Linked DNA regions of Homo sapiens. The main gene of each other region encodes a partner of the protein of the gene in region 2 in a complex. Each region holds a gene or a part of one and is shown on either strand. Other genes may lie near its edges. A codon is read from its position in the direction of its gene.

Region 1 (2,387 bases), about 100 Mb from region 2:
GAAATGAAGCCCAAAACAGTCAATCGTGAACTCTAAGCCGATCAGGTGGGAAAGCCGGCATCTCTAGAATGAAAACCTAAGGCTGCTTCTCCCACTTTGCCTGAGCAAATATAGTGAGATTACACAGCAAGGCATGTGTAAATTGCCAGTGCCTATTTCTCAGAACCAGATTTGGTGATCGCAAAGACTGACGTGGCCCTCTAGGTGTGCCTATACTGCACCAGAAGAGCAAGCCGAGAAAGCAGTGCTCAAACCTAGAGCATTCAACCTTTCATACCGATAAAGGCTTTAAAAAAAAAAAAAAAAAAAAAAAAAGCCCAGGTAAGTGAAAAAGCCGCTTTCGGTCAACGACTTAAGTCTTTACGGCTGTGAGCGCTATGGGCCGCGGTAGCTTTCCGTTAACTTCAGATCCGATTGTCGCCCCACTGCCAAAGTTACCTTCCAACATCGTTACTGTTGCACTTTACGCAGTCAAGTGTCCAACTCCTCAGATGAGCAAGTGGTCGGCCCTAAAAAGGGCCTTTGGGATCGAAACGTGCAAAGCTGGAGCGGCGGCCTAGCCTCCGAAGCCGTACAGGGTGCGCCCCTGGCGCTTGAGCGCGTACACCACATCCATGGCTGTGACGGTCTTGCGCTTGGCGTGCTCGGTGTAGGTGACTGCGTCCCGAATCACATTCTCCAGGAACACCTTCAGCACACCGCGGGTCTCCTCGTAAATGAGGCCAGAGATCCGCTTAACGCCGCCACGCCGAGCTAGACGCCGAATGGCAGGCTTGGTGATGCCCTGAATGTTGTCTCTCAAGACCTTGCGGTGGCGCTTAGCGCCCCCTTTGCCTAAGCCTTTTCCGCCCTTTCCTCTGCCGGACATGACCGCTGGAGCCCGATAGACAGCTTCTGTCAAGGCGAGCACCGTCTTCCCCTGATATACAAGAGTATCGGACCAGATTGAAAACCGAAAGCGCGCCGGCGGGAAGCGTTCTCAATTGTCCCCGCCCTCTCGACATTTCGTCATTTCTTTTCTGTTTTCCTCTCCCTCCTCCTCCACTCTGCTCAGGTCCCTCTCACTCTTTTTTTTTTTTAACCGCTACGCCACAGTCCCCGGGAGAATTCAGATCCCAACCGGGGCTTCCGGATTCTGTAGTGGCTTTGGCCTGTGTCTGGTCTGAGGACGCCCGGAAGGCATTGCACTGAGGCTAAGGGAAAGGTCTCTGGAGGGAGCCTCAGGAAGAGCAAATGGAGGCCAGAGACTGGCAGGAGCGCGCCAGCGCAGGATTTAATCCCGACGAGCGGATTCAGAGCCGTGCTTATATAAAGCTTCAGGAAGCGCCGTTCCGACGATGAGGTCGACACGCGAGAGGCGACCTCAAGAGCGGCGGCGCCAGGGATCTGTGCGCCAAGGGAGGACGGGAGGGAGCAGGTTCGCCATAATTCCTGGCTCCAGGCTCTGTTTTGTTGGACCGAGCCACTGTATTTTAGCTCACACAGGAGAATTCTGGCCCTGGGAAAATTGGTCTCAGCATGCTGCCAAGCTTTCTCATGGACGTCAGCGAATCCCAACACACTGTCGGTCAAAGCCGTGCTGGAAGAAACAAAACAGTTCTCCCTCGGTAGAACTGAGAGGGGATTGGTCCAGGGCCCCCGCCGATACCAAAATCCAGGTTGCTCAAGTCTCTCATAGAAAGTGGCGTAGTATTTGCACATAACTATGCACATCCTCCCGTGTACTTTAAATAGTCTCTAAATTACTTCGTAACACCTAATCCAGTGTAAATGCTATGTAAGTAATTGTTATACTGTTTTTATTTTTACTATCTTTTGTTGTACTTTTTTTTAAAAAAGAAATTCATTTGTTTAATATTTTCGGTCTTGGGGAACCCGCGTATATGGAGGGCCTGCTACATAGAGAAGACTGAGGGATATTCTGTGCATCCGTTTCTACGGATCCTCTAAATCGGCCTTTGTTTTCAGCCAGGATTTAGTGCCCAGCTGTGTCCTTTGGAGGCCCCACATGGAGCTAGCAAAGTTTGCTAAATCGGGTTTTGCAAGAGGACTGTCTGCTCCATACTGGGAGTAGTTACCGCAAACTGCCCTATGAAATTGGTTGGGGTTCTTACTGTTAGCATGTTTATTACTTTATCAGGGCTCTCTGTAGGAGAGTCTATGAGAAAATCTTCTGGTTTCTGCTGAAAGAATCGTGTTTTGTTGGGGTTTTTTTCCCGAAAAATATTATTTTTAAAAACTCTTCTGTGCCCTGTTTAATCTCTCCCTTGGATCCACCTTCTGTGTGCTCATAAATCGTAAATCTGTATTCAGACTTCTGGACTCGAGACACGTAGATCCACCTGGTGGTTCTTCAGTCATTTTAAGCCCAAAACTCAAAATCTCCC
Region 2 (4,765 bases):
CTAGCTACCCAGGAGTCTAAGGCAGGAGGATCACCTGAGCCCAGGGAAGGTCAAGGCTGCAGTGAGCCACGATCGCTCCACTGTACTCCAACCTGGGCAGTGAAGTTTAATACTGATGATTACATATCAAGCACTGTGTTTTGGATAGCCTAGCTACATTTAGTCAGTCCAGAAACTTAAATACTATGGTACATCCTATGAGTAACCCCCTTGAAAGTATTGTGTTTAGGATCAACCCTAAACAGTATTCAGTATTCATACCACCCAAATACCAGATTAACTCACAAGAAATTTTGTTGTTGTTTGTTTTTTTTTTTTGAGAGTTTCGCTCGTCACCCAGGATGGAGTGCAGTAGCGTGATCTTGGCTGACTGCAACTTCCACCTCCCGGGTTCAAGTGATTCTTCTGCCTCAGCCTCCCAAGTAGCTGGAATTACAGGCGCTAGCCACCACGACCGGCTAATTTTTGTATCTTTTTTAGTAGAGACGGGGTTTCACCATGTTGGCCAGGCTGATCTTGAACTCCTGACCTCAGGTGATTCACCCACCTCAGCCTCCCAAAGTGCGTGAGCCACCGCGCCTAGCCCTATTTTGTTTCTTTCCTTTTTTTTTTGGAGACAGGGTCTCACTCTGTCACCCAGACTAGAGTGCAGTGGCAGGATCATAGCTCACCACCACCTCGACTTCCTGGGCTTCCGCAATCCTCCTACCTCAGCCTCCCCAGTATCTGGGACCACACGCAAGTGCCACAACGAACAGTTAATTAAAAAAAAAATTTTTTTTTTTTGTACAGATGGCGTCTTGCTATGTTGCCCAGGCTGGTCTCGAACTCCTGGGGTCATGTGATCCTCTCAGAGATGGAGGTCTTGCTTGGCCTCCCAAAGTGTTGGGATTACTGGTGTAAGCTACCACACCCAGCCAAGCAGTATTTCATAAGACTTATTTTAACCCTTTTCCCGTTTAAGAGAAAAAAAAAAAAGTACAGCTCATTGCCAGCACTCATTTAATTTTACATAAACATGTTCTTTGAAGCTGAAGCAAATCTGACTTTCAGCATGAAAATAAAAATATAAAACTGTTCTCGGAGTTTTTTTTTTTTTTTTTTTTGGGGGGGGACAGTCTCACTCTGTCACCCAGGCTGGAGTGCAGTGGCACAATCTTGGCTCAATGCAACCTCCACCTCCCAGGTTCAAGTGATTCTCTTGCCTCAGCCTCCCGAGTAGCTGGGATTATAGGCGCCCGCCACCACGCTCAACTAATTTTTGTATTTTTAGTAGAGAGAGGGTTTCACCATGTTGGCCAGGCTGGTCTTGAACTCCTGACCTCAAGTGATCAGCCCACTTCAGTCTCCCAAAGTGCTGGGATTACAGACATGAGCCACCTGCCTGGCCGGAGTTATTTCTAAACACAACTAATATCAGAATCGCCTATTTCATAAAAATTGGATTCATCAAATGAATCTTTGGCCAACAACCATTTGAGAATGATGTTAACATCATACATAGGAATGCTACGTTTTCTAGGATTTGACATTTACAGCAATCGAGAATTACCCTATTTTGTAAATGGAAATAACCATTACTAAAAACAGAGTGCTATAAACAGAATGATGTCTTTTTATCCAAAATCTATATATTAGAGTGATGTGAAAATAATAATAAAGGAGAGCTATTTCATGGCAGTTTTCACTGGGTAAATGCAGCAGCCCCAAGCACCACCAGCAAGTATTCTCAGGGCAAATGGGAAAAGGGTTAAATAACCAAGATGACAACAGGATTTCAAACATGAAAAACATAAAACCCTATGGACGCTTAAAAAATGTATTTGTGGCCGGGTGTGGTGGCTCACGCCTGTAATCCCAGCACTCTGGGAGGCCAAGACGGGCAGATCGCCCGAGGTCAGGAGTTCGAGACCAGCCTGACCAACATGGCGAAACCCTGTCTCTACTAAAAATACAAAAATTAGCCGGGCATGGTGGTGGGTGCCTGTAATCCCAACTACTTGGGAGGCTGAGGCAGGAGAATCGCTTGAACCCGGGAGGCAGAGGTTGCAGTGAGCCAAGATCATGCCATTGCACTCCAGCCTGGGTGACAGAGTGAGACTCCATCTCAAAAAACAAACAAACAAAATATTTGTAAGATATTCTAACAGTAATAATTCTCAATCTTATCAGAAAGCTTTTCCATAACACATGAACCCAAATTTTATCTCAAGCTCAACAAATAAAATCAGCTGGGCATGGTAGATCAGGCTGGTAATCCCAACACTTAGGGAAGCCAAGGCAGGGGGATTGCTTGAGCCCAGGTTGGAGACCACCCTGGCCAACAAAGCAAGACTCCGCTTCGAAAAATATAATTCGGGTGGGCACAGTGGCTCACGCCTGTAATCCCAACACTTTGGGAGGCCAAGGCGGGCAGATCACCTGAGGTCGGGAGTTCAAGACCAACCTGGCCAACATGGTGAAACCCCATCTCTACTAAAAATAGAAAAATTAGCTGGGTGTAGTGGCACCCGCCTGTAATCCCAGCTACTTGTGAGACTGAGGCAGAATTGCTTGAACCCAGGAGGCAGATGTTGCAGTGAGCCAAGATTGCGCCACTGCACTCCAGCCTGGGCGACAAGAGTGAAACTCAGTCTAAAAAATAAATAAAATAATTAGCCAGATGTGGTGGTGCATGCCTACAGTCCCAGCTACTCAGGAGGCTGAGGCAGAAGAATCCCTTTAGCCCGGGAGTTCGAGGTGGTGGTGAGCTATGATAACATCACTGAACTCCAGCTTGGGCAACAGAGCAAGACCCTGTCTCTAAAAAATGAAACAAGAAATCTCTAGGGATGTAACCTACCATCTACCTTTTGGGTAAGCTTTTTAGTTAATTATTATGCCCACCTCTGATTAAGAAACATAGTCACTACGGGTGTAGATCTGAGATAAAGAAAAACAAAAAACCATAGCCATATCAAGATGGAAACGTTACAGGGGGAGGAGGTGAGACGGGCCTGGTAGTTCACACCTATAATCCTACACTTTGAAAGGCTTAGGCAGGGAGGAATGCTTGAGGCTAGGAGTTTGAGACCAGCCTTGGCAACATAGCAAGACCCCATCTCTCCAAAAAATTTAAAAATGAGCGAAGTGTAGTGGCATGTGCCTATAGTCCTAGCTACTCAGGAGGTTGAAGTGGGAAGATTGCTTGAGCCCAGGAGTTCAAGGTTGTAGTGAGCCCTGATTGCACACTGCACTTCGGCCTGAGCAACAAAGCGACACCTTGCCTCTATCAAAAATAAATTAATTAAAAAATAAAAATAACTTTAAAGTTATATTGCTCTTAGTTTATGTTTCTGATACGAATCTAACTACCATGTAAATAATCTTACCTCTCCACTTTATCTGCAGATGTAGAAGGAGCAGGAACATCTTCAATTCTGTAATAAAAAATTAAAGGGGAAAAAATGTAAAACTGGAGGCAATTATTAAGCCTGAAAATAAAATAAATTCAGAAAAATATAAAGGAATAAAAGAGCTGTCATTTATTAAATACTCAAGTATTATTTACTTACTTACATTATCAAATTTAATTCATTTAATTCTTACTCACTCAAATATCCAGGGCTGAAAATAAGTGGCAACTTCACAGCTATAACCACAGGGATGAGGAACAACTTAAAGGGCAGTGCTTTCAGCTACAGGTTGTAAGCTATCTGGGCCATTTGCCTAGAATCTTGAAATGGTCTTGGATCCTTATCTACAAACTCCGTCACAGCCAGTCATGTATATCGAATAGTTTTATTAAGAGGTCATTCTGACCAAATGGTCTAGCACAGAGCCTCTCAAACTACCTGTGGTTAAGGGACTAGGTCTTTTATTTCCCTATATAACCTTCTATAACACACAGGTTTTTTTAAATACAATGTCAGGGAGATATCACAGCGAGACTCCGTCTCAAAAAAAAAAAAAAAAAAAAAGTTACACTATGACTGCAATATAAGACTCTGAATTGAATACCATTAAAAGCAAGGAACCAGTAAAAACACTATTAAGTATCATTGTAAAGCATTTATCAGTGATAAATTTCTTTTCTTTTTTTTTTTTTTTTTTGAGACAGAGTCTTGCTCTGTCGCCCAGGCTGGAGTGCCCTGGCACGATCTCCGGCTCACTGCAAGCTCCGCCTCCCGGGTTCACGCCATTCTCCTGCCTCAGCCTGGGCCTGGTGCCAGGCCGGTGCCTGTGCACCGGCCACCATGCCCGGCTAATTTTTTTGTATTTTTAGTAGAGACAGGGTTTCACCGTGTTAGCCAGGATGGTCTCGTCTCCTGACCTCGTGATCCACCTGCCTCGGCCTCCCAAAGTGCTGGGAATACAGGCGTGAGCCACCGCGCCCGGCCGATAAATTTATTTCTATTCTTGCTTAGCACAAGCCTAGACAAATAGAAAAGAGGGTGAACTAAGGCAGTACTTGTATAGTTGGAAAAAAAGATGAATTAAAGCAGTGTTTCTCAAATTTTAGTCTGTATGCAAACCATTTGGAGGAACGGTTATAACAGTTTGAGCTCCACCCCCTACAGTTTCTGAGTCAGAAGGTTTGAGGTAAGGTTGAAGAATCTGCATTTCTAACAACTGCCCAGGTGACACACTGCTGGTTTCTAGAACCATGCTCTGAGGACTACTGGATCAGAATAAAAATTATAAATGGATGTTCATGTCCTATCTGGGCAATAGGTATGTCTGATTCAGTTTTGTTTTGTTTTTGAGACAGTCCTTCTCTGTTGCC

What was found.
Region 1: the proteins of NASP (region 2) and H4C15 are in contact, whole or in part, in a crystal structure (PDB 7V6Q), measured with the Homo sapiens proteins. Residues at the interface, in NP_002473.2 of Homo sapiens: Glu563, Gln566, Ser567, Leu569, Asn570, Glu573, His587, Leu590, Tyr594, Gln599, Glu602, Gln606, Lys609; in NP_001029249.1 of Homo sapiens: Arg96 (codon at 583), Thr97 (codon at 580), Leu98 (codon at 577), Tyr99 (codon at 574), Gly100 (codon at 571), Gly102 (codon at 565), Gly103 (codon at 562).

The regions. Positions count from the first base shown.
Region 1 is NC_000001.11:149,860,264-149,862,650, forward strand, and holds H4C15 (histone H4), read right to left. Parts: upstream 897-2,387; 5' UTR 869-896; coding exon 557-868; 3' UTR 501-556; downstream 1-500. UniProt on the Homo sapiens protein: Core component of nucleosome. Nucleosomes wrap and compact DNA into chromatin, limiting DNA accessibility to the cellular machineries which require DNA as a template.
Region 2 is NC_000001.11:45,589,877-45,594,641, reverse strand, and holds part of NASP (nuclear autoantigenic sperm protein), read right to left. Parts: intron 3,420-4,765; coding exon 3,372-3,419; intron 1-3,371. UniProt on the Homo sapiens protein: Component of the histone chaperone network. Binds and stabilizes histone H3-H4 not bound to chromatin to maintain a soluble reservoir and modulate degradation by chaperone-mediated autophagy.